Regions from separate parts of the Homo sapiens genome. Here region 1 is linked to region 2. Evidence: fine-mapped expression QTL. A gene starts in region 2. The other region holds a variant in brackets. All regions are shown on one strand. Distances are from middle to middle.

Region 1 (5,521 bases), 22 kb after region 2:
AATTCGTATTCCATCCTTGCAATTTCCCTGGAAGCCCAGGCTTAAGCTTTTTGTCTTTCAGATGAGGAAACTGAGGCCTAGAGTGGTAGAGACTTGTTTATGAATGCTATACAGTGGGAGACAGAACCAGCAAGAAAACCAGGAGCCTTGGACTGAGCAGTAAAATGTTTTAGAAACAGGGAAAGTCGGGTAGAGTGGAGGAGAGCATGGTAGAGGGTGCCCAAGTAGATTAACAGCCAGCTCCAGCCTGGCTGACTAGAGGAAGATATGACTCTAAAAGTTGCCTGATTAAACCAAGGTCATTGTATTAGTCAGTTATCATGCTACTAGGAAGAAATACCTGAGACTGGGTAATTTATAAAGAAGAGAGTTTTCATTGACTCACAGTTCTACACGGCTGGCTGCGGAGGCCTCAGAAAACTTATACAGTCACGGTGGAAGGCACCTCTTCACAGGGCAGCAGGAGGGAGAATGAGTGCCAAGCTAAGGGGGGATGCCCCTTATAAAACCATCAGATCTCGTGAGAACTCACTATCACGAGAACAGCATGGGGAAAACCACCCCCATGACTGAATTATTTCCACCTGGTTCCACCCTTGACACATGGGGATTATTACAGCTCAAGGTGAGATTTGGGTGGGGACACAGAGCCAAACCATATCAGTCATCCCTTAGCACATGGAAGTGGATGGTGTGGCTCGGGCAATCCTCAAGACTCTGCCTCAACCCTCATCTCCCTCTACACTCCCCCCTCACCCCAAAATCCAGGCTATTTAGAAGACCAAGTGTTTGACACCCACTTATAGTAGATGAAACCAAATTAGGTGCTCAATGAAACCCAAGAATATTCCAATAAAAGATAAGAGAACTAAGTCAAGGACTTTGAGCTCCCTTTTCTCTAATGTTCATTTTAAAAGCAGCAAACTTAACTCTTAGCAGAATCACCTGCAGGGTTTTCCCAAACTCAGATTCTGAGCCTCGCTCCCAGGGTTTCTGATCCAGTAGGTCTGATCAGGGCCCAAGAAAATGCACTTTTCTCACAAGGTCCAAGGTGATGCTGTGGTCAGCATCACCAGAGAAGCAGAACCAATAGATGCATGTGTGTGTGTGTGTGTGTATGTGTGTGTGTGTGTGTGTGTGTGTAAAAAGATTATTTATAAGAAATTGGGCTCAGTGCAGTGCTTCATGCCTGTAATCCCAGCACTTTGGGAGGCCGAGGTGGGAGGATCACTTGAGCCCAGGAGTTTAAGACCAGCCTGGACAACATGGCAAAACCCCATCTCTACAAAAAAATATACAAAAATTATCTGGGCATAGCTGGGCATAGGCCCAGCCACTCAGGAGGCTGAGGTGAGAGAATCACCTAAGCCCAGAAAGTCAAGGTTGTGGTGAGCCATGATGGCACCACTGCACTCTATCCTGGGCAACAGCGTGAGACCTTGTCTCAAAGATAAGCATATATATATTTCTTTGGAAAGCCAGGCTTTCCAGAAAAAAATTGGCTCACAATTATGGAGGCTGACAAATCCTAAATCTGTAGTCAGGAAGATGGAGACCCAGGAGAGTTACTGGTGTAGTTCCAGTCTAGAAGTCTGCAGGCTGAAGACCTAGGAGGAGCTAATGTTTCAGTTTGAGTCTGAGAACTTAAAAAAAAAATGATGTCCCAGCTCAAAAGCAGTCAAGCAGGAGGCATTCTCCCTTACTTGTGGCAGGGTCAGCCCTTTGTTCTATTCAGGCCTTCAACTGATTGGATGGCGCCCACCCACACTGGGGAGGACAATTTTTATTCAGCCTGACATTTCAAATGTTAACATCAGCCAGATGTGGTGGCTCACGCCTATGATCCTAGCACTTTGGAAGGCTGAGGAGGCAGGCTGCCTGAGGCCAGGAGTTCAAGACCAGCCTGGGTAACATGGTGAAACCCTTCTCTACTAAAAATACAAAAAATTAGCTGAGCATGGTAGTGTGTGTCTGTAGTCCCAGCTACTCAGCAGGCTGAAGCGCGAGAATCGCTTGAACCTGGGAAGTGGAGGTTGCAGTGAGCTGTCTTTAAAAAAAAAAAAAAGTTAACATCATGTTAACATCATCCAGAAACATCTTCACAGAGACACCTAGAATAACATTTGGCCAGATATCCAGGCACCCCATCGCCCAGTCAGGTTGACTCATAAAATTAATTATCACGGATGCTGCTGCTGCTGCTGCTGCTGCTGCTGTGTGACCAAACTTTGAAAATCACTGCTTGGGAGTGTCTGCCTCTCTTTGAGGTGGGGTTAAATCATTATCTCCCCATCTCACAACCTACAGGGGGAACACCTATGATCACAGGACAGGAGTCACAGCAGGATAGACACAGCCAGCCACAGTGGCCAAGCTTGACTGGCTGGCAGACTGTTGGGGGCATAGAGTCTTCGGCTGAGTGGCTGGAATCCTGTGTTGCTCATCATCAGATCCCAAAAGACACTTCATCTCCCTGGGCTCCAGCTTCATTTAGGATCCGCAGATAATACACAGGAACTACTAACACTAAAACATTATTTGCTATTTATCTGAAATTCAAATTTAACCTGCATCCTTTTTCTCTTTTTTCTTTCTTCTTCTTTTTTTTTGCTAAATTTGGCAACAGGGCAGGCCACTGCTGCTGTCATTAGAAAGACTCATTTCAGCCCAGGCAAGGGGAGGAGAGCAAACCCAGAGATGGTAACCTGCTCCCCTGAACCAGAGGAAGCAGAGACCTTCTCACAAGGACCAGGCGAGGGATGTGAGTCGGCCTGAAGGGAGGGTGGGAGATGTCCGGGCTCACTTAACCACAGAAGGGTGGACCTCTCAGACCAACACTGACACCAGCAGTAAACAGGAAATGCCCTCCAACC[G/A]CAGGCCTCCTGCTCTTCCTGCCAGGGTCGAGAAGATTCTAATCCAGATTCAGAAGAGGAGCTGACTGGCCTCTGGCAAGCCCAAGCTGGATTACCAGCTGCGGAGGCAGAGGTGCCTGAGGTTTCCCAGCCCCCAGGCCAGAGGAGGCTGCTACACCCACTTCCCCCACGAAGCTGGGGCCCAGGCCAGAGAGAGAGCCCCAAAGCTGGTTTGGGGGCGGGGAGCTTCCCTACAGGCCCTGGAGGTACCAGGAGTGGGTGAGGTGCGGGGTGGGTGGCCTCCACAGTCCGGGTACACAGTTTGTCTGGGAGATTTCCTGGTTGCTGGTATGGGGGGGAGGTGTTCTTGTAGCTGCTGCAGGAACCTCTCCCTGTGAGCTCCATGGATGGGAAGTCGGGGTGTGGAGTGTGTAGTACTAGAATCTGCCATCTCCAGCTCTGTGCCTGTTTCCCCCAGCCCCATAGGCCCCAAGACAAAGCAAGAGGAATGAGAGGAAGCACAGCCGGGTCAAAGCTCCGAGCCACGAGTACTGAGGCAGGTGGTGGTACCCAGACCCCCTCTCCATAGCTCCCATGAGAGCACAAGGCGGAGGAGAGGACAGACTCCTGGCCTGAGGGGCCAAGCACCAGCTTCTCAGCCAGCTCTGCCACTGACTTGCTGCTTGGCAAGTCACTTAACTGTTCCAAGCCTCAGTTTTCACTTCTGGAAATGGGGATATGACCCCCTGCCTGCCCCCTCATGCTGGCATAAGAATCAATGACCTGTGACAGGACTTTGTAAATTATAAGTTGGTATTAGTTAGGCCTCTTTAGTCACAAATGTGAGAAACTGACATTAAATGAGGCAATGCAAAAGGGGGATTCACCAGCTCAGAGGCCCAAGACCCAGGGCAGGGAGAGGAGGCGCTGTCATTCCCTCTCACCCCTGCATCTCTCTGCAAGTCAGTCTCTTCTTCCGCAAGCCTGGAGCCAACTTCACCTCCTAAGAGGAGCTTCTCTGCTCTGTCACTACCAACTTGAACAACCACAGGGAGGGCCCTGAATTGTGTCACATGTCCACCCATGGCTGTGAGACACTATCTTATGCAGCTTCTTCTGGAAGCTTCTTATTTTGATTGTTGGCATCAGCATTATAAGTTTGCCACATTTTCCTGATTCCTATCCTCCTTGGACAAAATAACATAGGGGCTAAGGGCACAGGCTCTGGAACCCAGATTACCTGGATTCAAGTTCTGGTTCTGCCATTTTCTCACTGTGTAACGTTGGGCAAGTCGCTTAACTTCTCTGCACCTCAGTTCATAAATCTGTGAAAACTAAATGAGTTGATACATGGGAAGTATGAACAATTGTGCCTGGTGCCGGCCAGGGGTTCAACAAATGTTAATCATTATTATTGTCGGAGAATGAAGGGGCAGTGCCTGGGAATCCCAGGATGAGAGACAGCCTGAAGAAAAACCATCCTGCTCCACCTACTCCTCAACCTTCTTCCGGGGAGAGCTGACAACTGCAGGAGCTATGGCTCAACAAAGATGTACAGAGCTATGCAGTAAGCCCTGAGAATTACAAAACTTGACAGACAAAGTCGCTTTTTCTCCAGAAGCTCATTGCCAAGTAAGGGAGATAGAAGCATGAAGAGATCATTTCTATCCTGTGCTGGATAGAAGCGTGTGTATGTCTCTGTGGGAAGCCACAGTGGGACAACTGGTCCAGAGAGAGCTGCCTGGAAGAAATGACACCTGAGCTAAGGCCTGGAGCAGGGGCAAGAGCTTGCCAAGCAAGGAAAGGAGGGCAGGGCGTTGTGCTGTCCATTGGCTATTCAGTCTCGGCTCCAGATCTCCACTTGTCAGGTTGGCGCTACTGGGGCTTGATCTGTGCAAATTACATGTCCCCAGGTCAGCTGGTTCTGGCAGGTTCTTCCAATAGGGGGCACTAGGAGACTGAGGTCAGGAGGAGAGAAGGCACTTGCTCTTTTGTGCTTGCTTGCTTCTCCCCAGCAAGCTTTTTGCCGCAGAAGCATCCACTGAAGCCTCCAGCTTTCTTCAGCCTCAGCAGCTGGAAGCCATGTGAAGCAGCTGACAAACAGCTGGAGGCTGAGATGCCTGCTGTGGGGGGAGCAACAGTTTAAACCAGTGAGCATGTAGCATCGGAAAGCTTCCCGATGGATGATAGGTAAGGTCGGGTATGCAGATGGCCTTCCTGTGCAGGGCTGGGGACCAGAAAGAGGCAGCTAGGGGCAGGGGCCAGCCCCAGGGCAGGTTCAGAACCAAGACCCCATGTTGTGGGAGAATGGGGCCCATCAGGTGGGGCCTGGGCCCAGGGAGCTCTGGTGCAGATGCATGGAACTAAAGCACCCAAAACCTCCTCTGAGTTCCCAGCACTGATGGTGTTTTCAGAGATCATCGTGGCTCCCAGCCCGGGGAAGCCAGACTCAGGGCCAGGACTCTGAGTGGGGGGTTAGGAGAGGCGGCAGCTCTAAGGATGGAAGTTGGTGCTGACAGCAAGGGGCTGGCTCTATCCTCTGAGTATCTGGGAGCCATCATGGATCAAGGTCTCACTCCCATATTAGGAAAATTCTTTAAAAATTCCTCCGTGCAGTGCAATCTTGATTCTCCAGTGTGGGATGGGAGCATTGTGCCCCAGATATGGGA
Region 2 (5,000 bases):
CCTCTAGGAATGTGACAGGAACAACCTGGTCTCCCTTGGTCACCCAACCCCCACATGCTCTCAAAGGGACTTCATCCTCATTTACTACATTTGCTATAAGGGAAACGGAGTTGGCAAGAAAGGATCTCGCCTAGGAGAATATCTCCCTTGTTCCAAATTCACAAGGGTATTTTTACACACTATTAAACCACAAGAGCCATTTTATAAATGTCATCATCATAGTCTTTTAATATTTTACATAAAAAACTGTATACACAGCTTATAGAACTTTTATGTAAACATCATAAGCTCACCATTTTGTCATTTGTCAGTTTATTTAAAAAATAAAAAACAAGACAACAATTTAGTAGAAGTACCACTGGGAGGGAGGGGAGGGGAAAAAAGGATATACAGGGGCAGGTGTATTCTCTGTACAGAGGTGCAGAGAAAATTTCACATAGCTTTAGAGAATGCCTTGTGGAAAAAAAAAAAATAGGCCCCAATACTTGTTACTGCCCTTTATCAAAACTGTGTGCATGACCTGCACAAATAAAATCACAAAACAGTGTTGCCACATTCTTCAAGGAAACAAAGCAAAATTTAGTGGGTTTCTTTTCCCTCTCCTTGTTAAAAGTCATTTTTTAAAAACATCAGAAGTAGATGAGGTTACAGCGTACAAGTGTGGTCAGAATGCTACTGTCGTATGCAAATGACGAGTGCATTAAGTGTCAAACAATGAAACAATTGTGCAAAGAATAAAAAAACAAATTTTAGCCTTTAAATAAATCAAATAACATCAGTTTCTTGGACTGAACAATTTTCACTTCTAGGACAGGCACAAAGTTCGCTTATGGCAAAAACAACCCCACAGCGCATCCTCCCTCCTCCCTCCGGTAGCTGGTGGAGGGTTCGCAGCGGGCTGGCCCGCAGGAGAGGCTGTGCTGAAGCTGTGTCCTCCCCAAGTCAGTTGCAAATGTCTTCCCCAGGGGTTGGAAAGATGGTCAAGTCCTGTTCATGCTTGGGCGGGAGTCTGGCCCAGCCTGGGCCAGAGCGCTCACCCATCACCACCCTTAAATAACACCATCTTAGCTCCGAAAATAAAATTATATCTATATTTATATAACATCCCCCCATCCTCCCCAGCAGCCCTCCCCTCCCGCAGTACCCGGGGTCTATGTTACAGACAAGGGATATCAAGCTCCCGCTGGTGAAGGGCGAACATCTGATGGGGCGCGGCCACACTCCCGCGCCAATCTCGCCCCCGGGGATCAGAGGCGGGGGTGGGGTGAAAATGGGGCGAGGGGAGTCGAACAGACACACAGCCACACACTCTGAGGCCCGGCTCTTCAGAAAAGCATGCTCAGGGGACCCTTGGCACTCAGTGGGGAGCCCAGGCCTGTGCAACACAGCTGGACGCACACAGACACTGGGATGGGGGCGCCCGGTGCCCACGCCAAGTCCTGGCGCAAGCCAGAGGCGTCAGCAGACAGATGCCAGGCAGGCCGGTGGGGTCCTTGTGGGACACGGGTCTCCCCTTCTCCGGGCTCGCGGGGGACTGGTCCAGGAGGGGGAGCCGTGCCGGCAGGGGCAGGCGCGACGGGCGCGGCCCTCATAGCACCTTGCAGCAGTTGATGCAGCCGTTCTGGGAGCCGTAGCGCTTCTGCAGCGCGGCGCGCGTGGCCGTCTCGAAGACCTCGCGCACGCCTTCCTTGGTCTTGGCAGAGCACTCGAGGTAGTCGTAGGCTTGGATGCGCACGGCCATGGCGCGGCCGTCATCCGTGCGCACGGGTTCCTGCTTCATGCGGGCCAGCTCTGTGCGGACATGCTCGTCGCTGCGCAGGTCTTTTTTGTTGGCCACCAGGATGATGGGCACATTGGGACAGAAGTGCTTCACCTCGGGGACCCACTTCTCGGGGATGTTCTCCAGCGAGTCCGGGCTGTCCACCGAGAAGCACATGAGAATGACGTCGGTGTCCGGGTAGGAGAGCGGCCGCAGGCGGTCGTAGTCCTCCTGGCCCGCCGTGTCCCACAGCGCCAGCTCCACCTGCTTGCCGTCCACCTCAATGTCGGCCACATAGTTCTCGAAGACGGTGGGCACGTACACCTCGGGGAACTCGTCCTTACTGAACACGATCAGCAGGCACGTCTTGCCACACGCGCCGTCGCCCACCACCACCAGCTTCTTGCGGATGGCCGCCATGAGCGGGCCGGGCCCGGGCAGCAGGAGGGGGCCCGCGAACGCCTCGCTGCCCTCCCGCTCGCCGCTCACTGCTCACCTCGGGCTGCGCGCAGGTGGCGAGAGGGTCGCTAGCTGCACCCGGGCCCCGCGGTGGCGCGTTCTCTCGCTGCGCTTCGGCTGCCGCGGCGGGGGCGGTGGGGGCGCGGGGGCATAGGGCGCACCGTGCGTCTCGCCGCGCTGCTCCCGGGCGGTGGTCGCTCTGCTCACCCCAGGCCGGGGATCGGCGGCTTTGTGCGTAACGCGGGCTCGGGCAGCAGACTCGGGCGGTGGACTCGGCCTAGCTCTCTCCCGGGTCTCTCCGGGCCTCGCTGAGCATACAAGACAACAGCTCCAACCAGACTGCGGTGGCAGATGAGGGCTGCGGCCCTAGCGCCCGCTATTTAAAGAGTCCGGCCACTTTCTTAATATAGCCGTCCAATGGGAAACCAGCCGGCTGAGCTCATCGCTGCGGAGCTTAGCTCTGATTGGCCGCCCCCTGCAGCCCGAGGGCGGGGCAGGGCCAGCTTGATTGACGGCCCAGGCCGCCGGGCTGGGAGAGGCAGCGACCGGGGAGTCCGCGCTGCTGCTGCCGCTGCGGGGCTCTGGCGGTACCCGGGTCCCCTCCTTCGCCGCAGCGTTTGCGCGCGGGGTCCGGGAGCTGGCTGTCTGGAGCCTCCAGGGTCTGGGCGAGCGGTTCCGAGACAGGCTTCACTCAGTGGGGCGTTGGCGACTCCCATTCAGAATTGCCCCTCTTCCTGGCAAACTCCCGGCGGGTGGTCGGGCCTGTGGGGGAGGGGCAGCTCTTTTAACGTGGTTTTGTTTTTAAATAAACAGACACACACACACACACACACACACACACACCCCACACACACACTTTTGTTCCCAAACAAGAGTGTTTTCTCTTTTCTTTTGGAGGTGGCCCCTCCTGTGGTTTAGGGCCCCACCCGGGTACTCGCCGTGGGCCAGCCTCGGGTTTGGACCCGAGAGGCGACCGGCTGGCTGCAAACTGGCTCTTCCAAGTCCCGCCGCCCCTACCCTTCCCAACCCCCAGCTTAGGTCTCTAGGTGAAGATTAAGGGAAGAGGTGCGGAGTGGCCCAAGCTTGACAACGGAAAGGGAAGGTCGAGGCTCGAACACTTGGAGGAAGTTACCGGACAGGAAGAAGCCCCTTCGGCCCCTCTTTTCACTATGAACTCTGATCCCGGTTCTTAAAACAGAGAACTGTCTGAGATAAATTGTACAATAGAATATACACTATTGTACAATAGAATGTACAATAGAATATACACTATTGTACAATAGAATGTACAATAGAATATACACTATTGTACAATAGAATGTACAATAGAATATACACTTGTACAATAGAATGTACAATAGAATATACACTATTGTACAATAGAATGTACAATAGAATATACACTATTGTACAATAGAATGTACAATAGAATATACACTATTGTACAATAGAATGTACAATAGAATATACACTATTGTACAATAGAATGTACAATAGAATATACACTATTGTACAATAGAACGTACAATATTCCGGGTTCAATAGAATCCAACCACCCCAAGACCCCTGAGCAGACGAAAAGGCTTGAGGCTGGAGAAGAGGGGAGGAGTAAGGGGCTAGCAAATGGGGCACAGCGGGTTAGGGGGTGTCCCCTCTATTGGGGCGTAGCCTCCTGATGCACGCCAGGACTGAACTCATTTATCCTGTAGATCCTGCATGAAATGACAGTACCGGTGATCCGGAAAGACCCAAGTCAACCGATTTCTACGGATAAAAGAGGAAGAAGGGGATAGGGGGAAAGGGGAGTCGGGGAGGGCTCCCGGGCAGGAGAAACAGCCTGAACACAAGCAGGAAGGTGGGAAGGAGCGGGGCAAACTCTAGGAGCTGCATATGCTGGGGCTCATGAGTGCTAAAGTATTAACAGCATGGGCTGGGCTCTGTCTATCCATTGCATGGGAAATGTCTGCAAACTGTTTTTTCAGCAAAGGAGGGACCCACCACATGACCGGGAGGTGGTTGCCTCCTGTCTCCGTCTCTGTCTCGGTCTCTGTCAGTTGTTGGAGGGCCAGGATTCTGTCTTATCTCCGCATCTTGAAGACCCAGCACAATGCCTGGCATTTACAAGGATCAGTAAATGACTGTGGGGAATTAACCCGAATGCTCAGAAACGCAGGTGGAATTTTCTGGGGGTTTCTTACCTCAGTTCCACACTTCGCTTTAACAATTATCTAACCAGGCCGGGCACAGTACCTCATGCCTGTGATCCCTGGGCGTGGGAGGCCCAGGCTGGAGAATTGTTTGAGCTCAGGAGTTCAAGACCAGCCTGGGTAACATGACAAAACCCCGTCCCTGTCCCTGAGAAAAATAAAATGGGATGGCGTGGGGAGGAGAGTGGCCTGCACCTATAATCTCAACTACTCAGGAGGCTGAGGTGGGAGGATTGCTTGAGCCCAGGAGGGCAAGGCTGCAGTGAGCTATGATCACAACACCCCACTCCAGCCTGGGTGACAGAATGAGACCCTGGCTCAAAAGAAAAAAAAAAAGTAAACATTAAAAAGAAAATCATTAAGCAAACCCATGCAGCCAACTGTGACTGAACCCCGGTGTTTTCACATGTAATTCATATGTTAAGAGCTAGGTCCCCATATGGCTCCACAGATGAAATCAGATCAAATAAGGCAGTAGTGCTGCTAAGCCTAGAGCCCTTCCTAGAGGGAACGTCTTATTTAGACGACTGGAAGTGCTGTGCTTCCCTCAGACTGGATTCACATCACTACAACAA

Evidence for each region. PIP is the estimated chance that this variant, and not a neighbour inherited with it, causes the effect.
Region 1: its variant is fine-mapped to the expression of RHOB in whole blood (TOPMed, PIP above 0.99).

The regions. Positions count from the first base shown.
Region 1 is chr2:20,422,349-20,427,869 of GRCh38, reverse strand. LOC105373465 (a long non-coding RNA gene) reads left to right here and starts at 2,925. Exons shown (of 5, transcript XR_001739317.2): 1 at 2,925-3,118; 2 at 3,331-5,042. RefSeq lists enhancers at 2,761-2,810, 2,871-3,030, 5,164-5,521. The variant G/A (reference allele first, on the strand shown) is at 2,874.
Region 2 is chr2:20,444,645-20,449,644 of GRCh38, reverse strand. It overlaps RHOB (ras homolog family member B), which reads right to left and starts at 2,571. Exons shown (of 1, transcript NM_004040.4): 1 at 205-2,571. The coding sequence starts at 2,179. The coding sequence ends at 1,589. RefSeq lists silencers at 2,153-2,362, 2,613-2,862.